Regions from separate parts of the Homo sapiens genome. Here region 1 is linked to region 2. Evidence: fine-mapped expression QTL. A gene starts in region 2. The other region holds a variant in brackets. All regions are shown on one strand. Distances are between the middles of the regions. Region 1 overlaps BCAS4 (breast carcinoma amplified sequence 4). Region 2 holds the start of BCAS4 (breast carcinoma amplified sequence 4).

Region 1 (5,321 bases), 83 kb after region 2:
GCGCGCTACCATGCCCGGCTAATTTCTGTATTTTTAGTAGAGACAGGCTTTGACTGTGTTGGCCAGGCTGGCCTCAAACTCTTGACCTCAAGTGATCCGCCTGCCTTGGCCTCCCAAAGTGCTGGGATTACAGTCATGAGCCACTGCGCCTGGGCTGCCTGGCTCTTCTTGATGCCTACAGAGTATTCCATTGTGGAGAGGGCCTGACATGGATGCCTTGGTCCCTTTGGGTGGCCGGCTTTGGCTGTCACAGGCAGTGCTGTCAGAGGAGCTCAGAGTCTTTGGTCATATGTGTGAGTCCTGCAGGATGAACTTGTAGACCGGGAATTCCTGGGTCATGGAACAAGTGGATCCAAATCGCTGATAGAGCTTCATTTCTTGTCATTCCAGAAGTCACCTGCACCGGTGCCCGTGACGTACGAGCTGCCCACACTGTATAGGACGGAGGACTATTTTCCTGTGGACGCCGGGGAAGCACAGCACCACCCCCGCACCTGCCCTCGGCCTTTGTGAGCTTTGTGGTCTTCCCATCAGGAACGCTGGAAAGTGACATTGTGTACACACTGCAGCTTGGGGGTTTTTTCTTTGTATTGCTGTTTATTTTATATTTTAAAAATATTTAAAAAAATGTCGAGATGGGGTCTCACTATGTTGTCCAGACTGATCTCAAACTCCTGGGCTCAAGTGATCCACCCACCTTGGCCTTCCAAAGTGGTGGGATTATGGGCAGGAGCCTCCGTGCCCAGGCTGCTGCCATTTTCAAATTTCCTCCCTGCCTCATGTGAGACCACAGGGTTTGGAGAAGCAGTTGGAACCCACGTGTGGTGATGCCTCCCACATCGGCCTGCTTGGGGTTCTACAGGGGTTGAGGGACCAGGCCTGGCCGGGGCTGATGGACAGTGGGGACTTTCCTTCTCTCCATGATGGCTTTGCAGGGGCTCCATGGTCCTTCTCTCTGTGATGGGTTTTTGCACGGGGTGTGCTCTGCCACTGTGGTGGGTGGGTGGATGCTGCTTCTGTTGCCTCCAGACCTCGGTGCCCACAGCCTTGAGGATCCTTCCAATAAAGGTGTCAAGAGCTCAGCCCTGGTCTGGTGTGAGAATGACGGGGAGTGATAGTTTCCTTTTCACCTGTGCAGTGTTTTCTAGAAGGTTCCTCCTGTGCCTCACCTGCGAGGGCCTGATCCTGGGCACCTGCTGATGAGGCTCCAGCTGAGGGAGGGGTAGTCCCGGCCTTTGGATTTCCAGCAAGAGTGCAGAGGTCATTAGGACCCCCAGGGTCTTCAAAGGCTTGTTTACCCACATTTCTTCCCATGCAGATGAGTTTCCTGCTATTGTCCTAACACTCCGGATTTCTCACTGTGGCTTCAACCTGCAATGGGTATTTCTGGAATTCCTCGAAGAGCCAAGAACACACACATAATTCCCCTATGCACATACAGGACTGAACTGTAAATCTGCATTAGAATTTCAAGATAATCTGCCTGGGCAAGGTGACTCATGCCTGTAATCCCAGCATCTTGGGAGGCTGAGGCAGGAGGGTCGCTTATGCACAGGGTCAAGACTGCAGTGAGCCGTGATTGTTCTACTGCACCCTAGCATGTGCAACAGAGCAAGACCCTGTCCCCCACACCCCAAAAAAGTTTTTCAAGGAAGCCTAAAATAATGAATCTGGCAAGATAGAGTAGAGGCCAGGTGCAGCGGCTCATGTCTGTGATCCCAGCACTTTGGGAGGCCGAGGCAGGCAGATCGCCCAGGAGTTTGAGACCAGCCTGGGCAACATAATGAGACCATATCTCTACCAAAAATACAAAAATTAGCCTGGCGTGCTGGTGCACATCTGTGGTCCCAGCTACTTGGGAGGCTGAGGTGGGAGGATTGCTTGAGCCTGGGAGGTTGAGGCTGCAGTGAGCCATGATTGTGCCACTGCACTCTAGCCTGGGTAACCAAGTGAGATCTTGGCTAAAAATGTTTTTAAAAATTAAAAACAGAAAAGCAGGGAAATAGTTTAGACAATTTTTGGAATTCAGAGATATAGGTAGACCCCTTGTTTCTGGAAAAGTCAGCATTTTTATTCTCTTTTCTTTTTTTTCGAGATGGAGTCTCACTCTGTCACCCAGGCTGTAGTGCGGTGGCATGATCTCAGCTCACTGCAACCTCCGCCTCCCGAGTTCAAGCTATTTTCCTGCCTCAGCCTCCCAGGAAGCTGGGATTACGGGAGCACACCACCACGCCCAGCTAATTTTTGTATTTTTAGTAGAGACGGGGTTTCGCCATGTTGGTCAGGCTGGTCTCGAACTCCTGACCTCAGGTGATCCTCCTACTTTGGCCTCCCAAGGTGCTGGGATTACAGGTGTGAGCCACCATGCCCGGTCAGCATTTTTTTATTGAGGTGACTTTTACAATTTTTTTTTTCTTTAAATGAGACACCTGTCACCCAGCCTGGAGTGCAGTGGTGTGATCATGGCTCCCTGAAACCTCAAGCTCCTGGGCTCAAGTGATCCTCCTGCCTCAGCCTCCCAAGTAGCTGGGACCACAAATGTGCACCACCATGCCTGGCAACTTTTCAAATTTGTTTTATTTTTTGTAGAGACAGGGTCTCCCTATGTTGTTCAGGCTGGTCTTGAACTTCTGGGCTCAGGGGACCCTCCTGTTTCGGCCTCCCAAAATGTAGTGTTGGCACAAACCTTTATTGAAGTATAATTTATATTACAGAAAGGGGTGCCTAAGTGGTTCACTAAATTTTTCACAAACTGA[G/A]TGTATCTATTTAAGCCTCACCAGACTGAGCAACCAACATTATCAGCACTGAGCAGCCCCCTCATGCCCGCTTCTGGTCCATGCCCATACCCACCCCCACCCCAGGCTGACAGCATACTGACATCTAACCATATGGACTGGAGTTTCTTGTTTCTGTGCTCTGTATAAAGAGAGGACACACGGGATGTGTACCTACGGTGTGTCATCTCTTGTCTCTGGCCTCACCGGCTTGATGTTACCTTGGGAGGTGTCACTGTTGCTGTGTCACTGTAGATCATTCCCATGGCTGTGTTGTATTGGCTGGGACTGTTTTTATCGAAGGGAGCTTGGACACTCTGCATGCCCCAGTGTGCTCAGGGAGAGCACACGTTGGATGGAAAGTTGGCCGGGTGAGGTGGCTCACGCCTGTAATCCCAGCACTTTGGGAGGCCAAGGTGGGCAGATCACTTGAGGTCAGGAATTCGAGACCAGCCTGGCCAACATAGTGAAACCTCATCTCTACTAAAAATACAAAAATTAGCCAGGTGCTGTGGTGCACCCCTGTAATCCCACCTACTCGGGAGGCTGAGGCAGGAGAATCGCTCGAATCTGGGAGGTGGAGGTTGCAGCAAGCCAAGATCGTGCCACTGCACTCCAGCCTGGGCAACAGAGCGAGACCCTATCTCAAAAAAGAAGAAAAAGGAGAAAGCTAATGTTAATTTTTTAGACAAGCAGTTGAGGACACTCATTTCCGGAAGGGTGAGTATCTGCTGAGTGTTGGGCACTCCCAGGCTTCTTTCTCCTCCCAGCCCCTGAAACAGGGGCCAGGGAGAGTTGGAAGGAAATCCCATGTGATTAAGCCGCAGCAACGTTGAGTGTCCTAAAGCAGGGACCCACAGGCCCCACGCTAGGAGCATGGCCCTGAGGTTAGCCTGCCTGGCAGCACTGTCCGCTCCCATGCCTCTTAGCTGTGTGAGCTGGGCTTTTCACTTGCTCTCTCTGAGTCCAGCTGCCCCTGCGGTAAGACATGAGGATGGCTCTGGTCTGATGGGTTGTGGTGAGGGTGACATGAGGTGAGCTGTGTGCATGCTGGGCACACTGGCGAGGGGCTCTCAGTAATGGGAGGCTGCTGTTGCAGGGCCCGGGCTGTGATGGGGAAAGGGTTGATTGTCCTGCGTTTCTCAGTTGACCAGCGGCATCCGAGGGCCTGAACAGCGAGTGACTCAGGGACTGCCCTTACGTGTCAGAGTTAGAAGTCATGGGAGAATGGAGGCTGCTCTCTCTGGGTTTCCCTGTCCTGTTAGGAGGGGTGAGGTTGCACAGGAAATCTATGGGGAAAAGGTGACAAGTGAACTGGAAGTAGCCGTTCCAAAGTTCCTAGGATTTGCACTGCCAAACAATGAGCTTTAAGGGACGCTTGGAAACATCTGGGGAGAAGGAAGGCCGGGACACTGCGCCCTGCCATCACCAACCCCTAACCTCAGTCCTCTGAGCGGCTCCACTGTCCCTGTGCCAGGTGACTTCATGTGCGTCCTCATTAAAGCAAAGTGCCTGACATTTCCATTGTCCAGTCAATGATGTCCTCGGTTGCTGACTATTGATGGCCTCTAACCCCTTGGTAAGGGTAACTGCAGCCTAGGAAAGGGTGATCTGATCTTTCTCTTTTTTAAACAGAGACGGGGTTTTGCTATGTTGTCCAGGCTAGTCTCAACCTCCTGGGCTCAAGCGATCCTCCTACCTTGGCCACCCAAAGTATTGGGATTACAGTCGTGAGCCACCGAGGCCTGCCAGTCTTTTTCTTTTGTGGCTGATGTTGGACAGGGACACCAGTAGAAAGGTCACTGCAGATTTCTTCCCAAGAGCAAGGCTCTTCGGTCAACCCCCTTTCCCACTTTCCCAGCGGATGTGAACTTCGTGCTCACCAAAGCAAGAGGTTTCAAGGTAGCAGCCCATGGGGTTGTATCTGATTGGCAGAAATGTGTGGTTTGCCCTGAATTGTTTTAAGATGTTTTCATGTTGTGACAATTGGGTAAACTTCTGGAAAAAATAGAGCTCCATACCTCACTCAGCACACCTGGATTGTAAATCGATTAGGAGCTTAATGTATAAAATGAATCTATTGGCCGGGTGCAGTGGCTCACACCTGAATCCTACCACTTTGGGAGGCCAAGGTGGGTGGATCGCTTGAGCTCAGGAGTTCAAGACCAGCATGGGCAACATAGCAAAACCCCTTCTCTGTAAAAAATAGAAAAATTAGCCAGGCATGGTGGTGCTTGCCTATAGACCCAGCTACTTGGTGGGAGGTGGGAAGATTGCTCGAGCCAGGGAACTTGAGGCTGCAGTGAGCTGAGATTGTGCCACTGCACTCCAGCCTGGGTGACAAAGTGTTACCCTGTCTTAGAAAGTAAAATAAAACGAATCTATTGAAGAAATAGGTTAAAAACATTGGCGAAGTGTACAAAATCGAGAAGCCATAAAAGAGGTCAATTTGATTATATAAAATTTTTAAACTTCTGCATGGCAAAACCAACGGAAAACTCAACCAAAAAATCCCAAAACAACAAAATCCTAAGCAAATTCAAAAGA
Region 2 (5,324 bases):
CGAGATTGTGCCACTGCACTCCAGCCTGGGCAACAAAGCAAGACTCTGTCAAAAAACAAAAAAAAGAAAGAAAGAAAGAAAAGAAAAAGAAATCCCTCCCTCCCATACCCCTCTCCAGTTTCTTCTCCCCCGCCCTAAAGTAACCACTTTTGGAACATGGGGTACGTCGTTCCCATGCACAGCTTTGTACTTTTGCTCCATCTGTCGGTGTCCATAAACAATATACAGTGTGGTTCTGCGTGTTTTAAAAACTGTGCTAATGGCACAGTGCCCTACAGAGCCTTCTGCAACACGACTTTTCTTCCTTAGCTTTATGTTTCTGAGATTTATCCACCAGGAGAAGTTTGCTGTGCTCAGGTCAATTTGGTGATCTGAGGCCAGTCCTGGGCTCTTTGTGGGAGATGCCTAGCCAGCAGGCAAGGGCAAGGGTCTGAGACCGGCTCCCAGGGGATGGCGAGGAGGGCTCAGAGCATCAGGGAAATCATGACAATGACGAATGGCCGAGTGTGGGCTCAGTGAGTTCCTATAAAACCCTTAAGCACTTGAGGCCCAAGTCTTTGCCAAGAATTTTCCAGAAAATGACTGGCCTGAAGGCCTGGATATTTGGATAGGGAGAAATTAGCAGTGGACAGATTTGGAAGTGGGAATTGTGCAGTGATGGACTACACAAAAGGCAGGTCAAACATGTGTTGTTTAGGCCCCTACCTAGGGTGGCCAACTACAATATAAATTCAGATTTAATGGAGAGGAAGGTGTGGGACGTCCTATATATTTATTTGCACCCTTGATACCAGCCCCTCCTTTTTAAAAAACAACAACAACAACAAAAGACAGAGTTTCACTGTGTCACACAGGCTGGAGTGCAGTGGTGCGATCATAACTCGCGGTAGCCTTGAACTCCTGGCCTCAAACAATCCTCCTGCATCTGCCTCTCCAGTAGCTAGGACTACAGTTGTGCCCCACCACATCCTGCAATTTTAATTTTTTTTTTTCTTTTAGAGAGATGGAGTCTCCTTATGTTTGCCCAAGCAGCTCAGCCTTTTTTTTTTTTTTTTTTTGTGAGGCGATTTAACATTTAAAGAAAAGTCAGCAGGCAGGGGGCGCTGGCCCACGCCTGTAATCCTAGCACTTTGGGAGGCCGAGGCAGGTGGCTCACCTGAGGTCAGGAGTTCGAGAGCAGCCTGGCCAACATGGCGAAACCCCGTCTCTACTAAAAAATACAAAAATTAGAATTAGTCGGGCGTGGTGACAGGCGCCTGTAATCCCAGCTACTCGGGAGGCTGAGGGAGGGGGAGAATTGCTTGAACCCGGAATGTGGAAGTTACAGTGAGCCGAAATCGCACCACTGCACTCCAGCCTGGGCGACAGAGCGAGACTCCGTCTCCAAAAAAAAAAAATTAATTAATTAAAAATAAAAATAAGTCATCAAACGAAAAATCAAAACTTCAGACTTGTCTTATACCTATTTGCCTTTTAGTACTTTCCTCATTAGCACTGTTGGGGTGGGAGATGAGGCGCACCTCGCTCTCTTCAGCCCCAAGGCTTGTAAAGGGTCTATCTAGGCCGGCCTCCGAGGGCATGGAGGGAGTGGGTGCGGTTGTGAAATGTAGTGCGCTCAATAGTTTCCTGGTGAAGTTTATTTTAAAATCCGCACCGAAGAGGAAGACGAGGACCGTCACACTCGGCCTTCCCTAAATTCCAGGACCCTCCGCCCGATGCAAACTAGATGCTTTAGTAGGATGGGAACGGGTGGGGGGCGGGCGGCTTTGGGCTTCCTCTAAGCTAGCGCCTCTCTAACCCGGACGCCCGTTAGAATCACCCGGGGAGTTTTAGAAACTACCGATGCCCAAGCCCCACTCCGAAGGATTCCAACTTAATCGGCCTGGTGCGAGGCCTGGCTTCCGGGCTTTTAAAAGCTTCCCGGGGATTCTATTTTACGGCCGGGTCCGGGGCCGGGAGCCTGTACTCTACCGGGATTCCGATGGGGAGGGGTGGCTTGCCCCAATAGTTCTCAAATTTAGCTTTGGGTCAACAATCTGGTTGGAACCACCTAACAAACATCAAAAGATCCTGATGCCCAGGTCTTAACCCAGAGACGGTGTGGTCCAGGCTTGGGAAATTCTAAAAGAGCTCCAGGTGACTGCCATCTGCAAGCGAGTTTGCAAAGCACTGATGCCCAGGTGCTGCGGGGGCGGGCGCAGCGCGCGCCGCTCGCCACTGGGTGGCGCTGCCCGCTCGGCCCGGCGCTCCTGGAGCTGCGAGCCGCGACCGCCGGGAGCGCACCTGCCCCGCCTCCGCCAGGCGGTCCGCGGGGCATGCAGCGGACCGGGGGCGGGGCTCCGAGGCCCGGGCGCAACCACGGGCTCCCAGGCAGCCTCCGCCAGCCGGACCCCGTCGCCCTCCTGATGCTGCTCGTGGACGCTGATCAGCCGGAGCCCATGCGCAGCGGGGCGCGCGAGCTCGCGCTCTTCCTGACCCCCGAGCCTGGGGCCGAGGTAGGGGACGGGGCTGTGGAGTTGGAGGAGAGGGTTCTCGCGGTTAGGGGTCCGGGCTCCGGACCCTCGGCTTCCCCGGAGCATCCTCTCGCTCCCGGAGTGGGGGGCCCGGGGATTCCCCCCTTCCTGAAGGGTGGCTGCGGGGCGCCACGCAGAGATGTGCAGCGGGTCGTCCCTGCTCGCTCCTCCGGGCGACACCGGGCCCCGGAGGCCCAGGCTCGCTTTCCCTCCCCACCCGGGTCCCCCAGCATCCGCCGGGTCCTCAGGCGCCGCCCTTTGCCAGGCCGGCCCTGGGAGAGGCGGACCCCGGGACCTCTGCTGCCCCGGCTACCTCCGAGCGGTGCCCGGGCCGAGCGGCGCCTCAGGCTGCGGCTGTGCGGGCCGCGCTGCGCTGCTGCAGCTCGGAGCGAAAACACCACGCCTCTGTCTGCGCTTTCTATTTTAAAAGCACCAAGTGAAAAGCAGATCTAAAACGAGACCCTCTACCTTCCGGCTGGAGGCATCTGTCGACGCTGTTGTGAAAAAGTTATTTGTCTGAGTTCACTAGGAGTTATTTACGGTCAGAAATTCAACCCATTCTCTTTTTAAACCACAAAAGCAGTACAGGAGTATTTAACATAAAGGCTATGCACCCCTTTCTCTTTTCTCTCCCACCCCAATTCTAGTTTTCTTAGAAAACCAGCATTAACTGTTTGGTATAAATCATTCCGGACATTTAAAATGCATTTACAAATGTAGATATCTGTATCTGCCTAGGCAGAGTATTGGCTCATGCCAGTGGTCCCAGCATTCTGGGAGGCTGAGGCAGGAGGATTGCTTGGGATGGGGATAGGGGACGGGGAAGAGTGAGGCTGCAGTGAGGCTTGATCATGCCACTGCACTCCAGCCTGGGCGACAGAGTGAGACATTTAAAAAAAAATCTATCTCGCCAGGCCTGGTGGCTCACGCTTGTAATCCCAGCACTACTGGGAGGCCGAGACGGGTGGATCACCTGAGGTCAGGAGCTCGAGACCAGCCTGACCAACATGGTGAAACCCCGTCTCTACTAAAAATACAAAAATTAGCCGGGTGTGTAATCCCAGCTACTTGGGAGGCTGAGGCAGGAGGATCGCTTGAACCTGGGAGGCGGAGGCTGCAGTGAGCTGAGATCAGCCATTGCATTCCAGCCTGGGCAACAAGAGCAAAACTCCCTCTCAAAAAAAAAAACCATAAAATATCTTTCCATATATATATATATACATATATATGAGTTTTCTCTTTTTTCTTTTTCTTTTTCTCCATATATATATATATATATATATATATATATATATATTTTTTTTTTTTTTTTTTTTTTTTTTGAGATGGAGTCTTGCTCTGTCACCAGGCTGGAGTGCATTGGCATGATCTCAGCTCACTGCAACCTCCGCCTCCCAGGTTCAAGGAATTCTCCTGCCTCAGCCTCCCGAGTAGCTGGGACTACAGGCGTGTGCCACCATGCTCAGCTAATTTTTGTATTTTTCAGTAGAGACGGGGTTTCACCATGTTGGCCAGGATGATCTCTATCTCTTGACCTCGTGATCCACCCTCCTCGGCCTCCCAAAGTGTTGGGATTACAGGCGTAAGCCACAGCGCCCAGCCATCTCCACATATTTTTAAAATAATTTTTGAACAGACGTTTTTAATTTTTTTTTTTTTGACAGGGTTTCACTTTGTCACCCAGGCTGGAGTGCAGTGACACAATCATAGCTCAATGTAGCCTCAACCTCCTGGGCTCAAGTGATCCTCCCACCTCAGCCTCCCGCATAGCCAGGACCACAGGTGCGCACCACCATGTCAGGTTAACTTTTAAAACAAAGTTATTTTGTGGAGACGAGATCTCACTATGTTGCCCAGGCGGGTCTTGAATTCCTGGGCCCAAGAGATCCTTTGGCCTCAGCCTCCCAAAGTGCTGGGATTATAGGCATGTACCACCATGCCTGGCCCATCTATATTAGTTTTAAATGAAACCTCACTTGCTGCTGTAATACTGTCCTGCAACTTGCTTTTCTTTACTCAAAATAGCATGGAAAAATGTGTGGGGACTACTAATGGGAAGGTATGGGGCTTCGTTTTGGTGTAATGAACATGTTCTGGATGTTAGATAGTTGTGTTGGTTGCACAAATTTGTGAATATACTGAAAACTGCTGAATCGTACACTTTGAAAGGGTGAATTTTGTGGTTTGTGAATTATATCTCAATTTAAAAAAATAGCATGGAGGCAGGGTACAGTGGCTTATGCCTGTAATTCCAGCGACTTAGGAAGCTGAGGTGGGAGGATCACTTGAGACCAGGAGTTCAAGACCAGTCTGGGCAACGCAGGGAAACCCCTGTCTCTACAAAAAAATGTTAAAATATAAAAAATTAAAAATAACACGAACAAAAATTTAAAAATTAAAAATAACATGAGCATGTATCCATAAACACTGTCCAATAGAAATATAATTGGAGCTACAAATGTGAGCTACCTATGCAATTTTTTTTGTTTTTGAGACAGAGTTTCACTCTTGTTGCCCAGGCTGGAGTGCAATGGTGTGATCTCGGCTCACCGCAACCTCCACCTCCTGGGTTCAAACGATTCTCCTGCCTCAGCCTCCCGAGTAGCTGGGATTACAGGCATGCGCCACCACGCCCAGCGAATTTTGTATTTTTAGTAGAGACAGGGTTCCTCCATGTTGGTCAGGCTGGTCTCGAACTCCTAGCCTCAGGTGATCTGCCCGCCTCGGCCTCCCAAAGTGCTGGGATTACAGGTGTGAGCCACTGTGCGTGGCCACCTACGCAATTTTTAGTGTTCTAGGAGCCACATGAAA

The links. PIP is the estimated chance that this variant, and not a neighbour inherited with it, causes the effect.
Region 1: its variant is fine-mapped to the expression of BCAS4 in whole blood (INTERVAL, PIP 0.92).

What each region holds. Positions count from the first base shown.
Region 1 is chr20:50,876,096-50,881,416 of GRCh38, forward strand. It overlaps BCAS4 (breast carcinoma amplified sequence 4), which reads left to right. Exons shown (of 5, transcript NM_198799.4): 5 at 391-1,082. The coding sequence ends at 513. Among named protein-coding and RNA genes, the nearest start is that of ADNP-AS1, 52 kb to the right of the region's middle. RefSeq lists enhancers at 46-626, 3,285-3,786, 3,787-4,286. The variant G/A (reference allele first, on the strand shown) is at 2,757.
Region 2 is chr20:50,792,679-50,798,002 of GRCh38, forward strand. BCAS4 (breast carcinoma amplified sequence 4) reads left to right here and starts at 2,383. Exons shown (of 5, transcript NM_198799.4): 1 at 2,383-2,495. The coding sequence starts at 2,406. RefSeq lists a silencer at 2,116-2,935.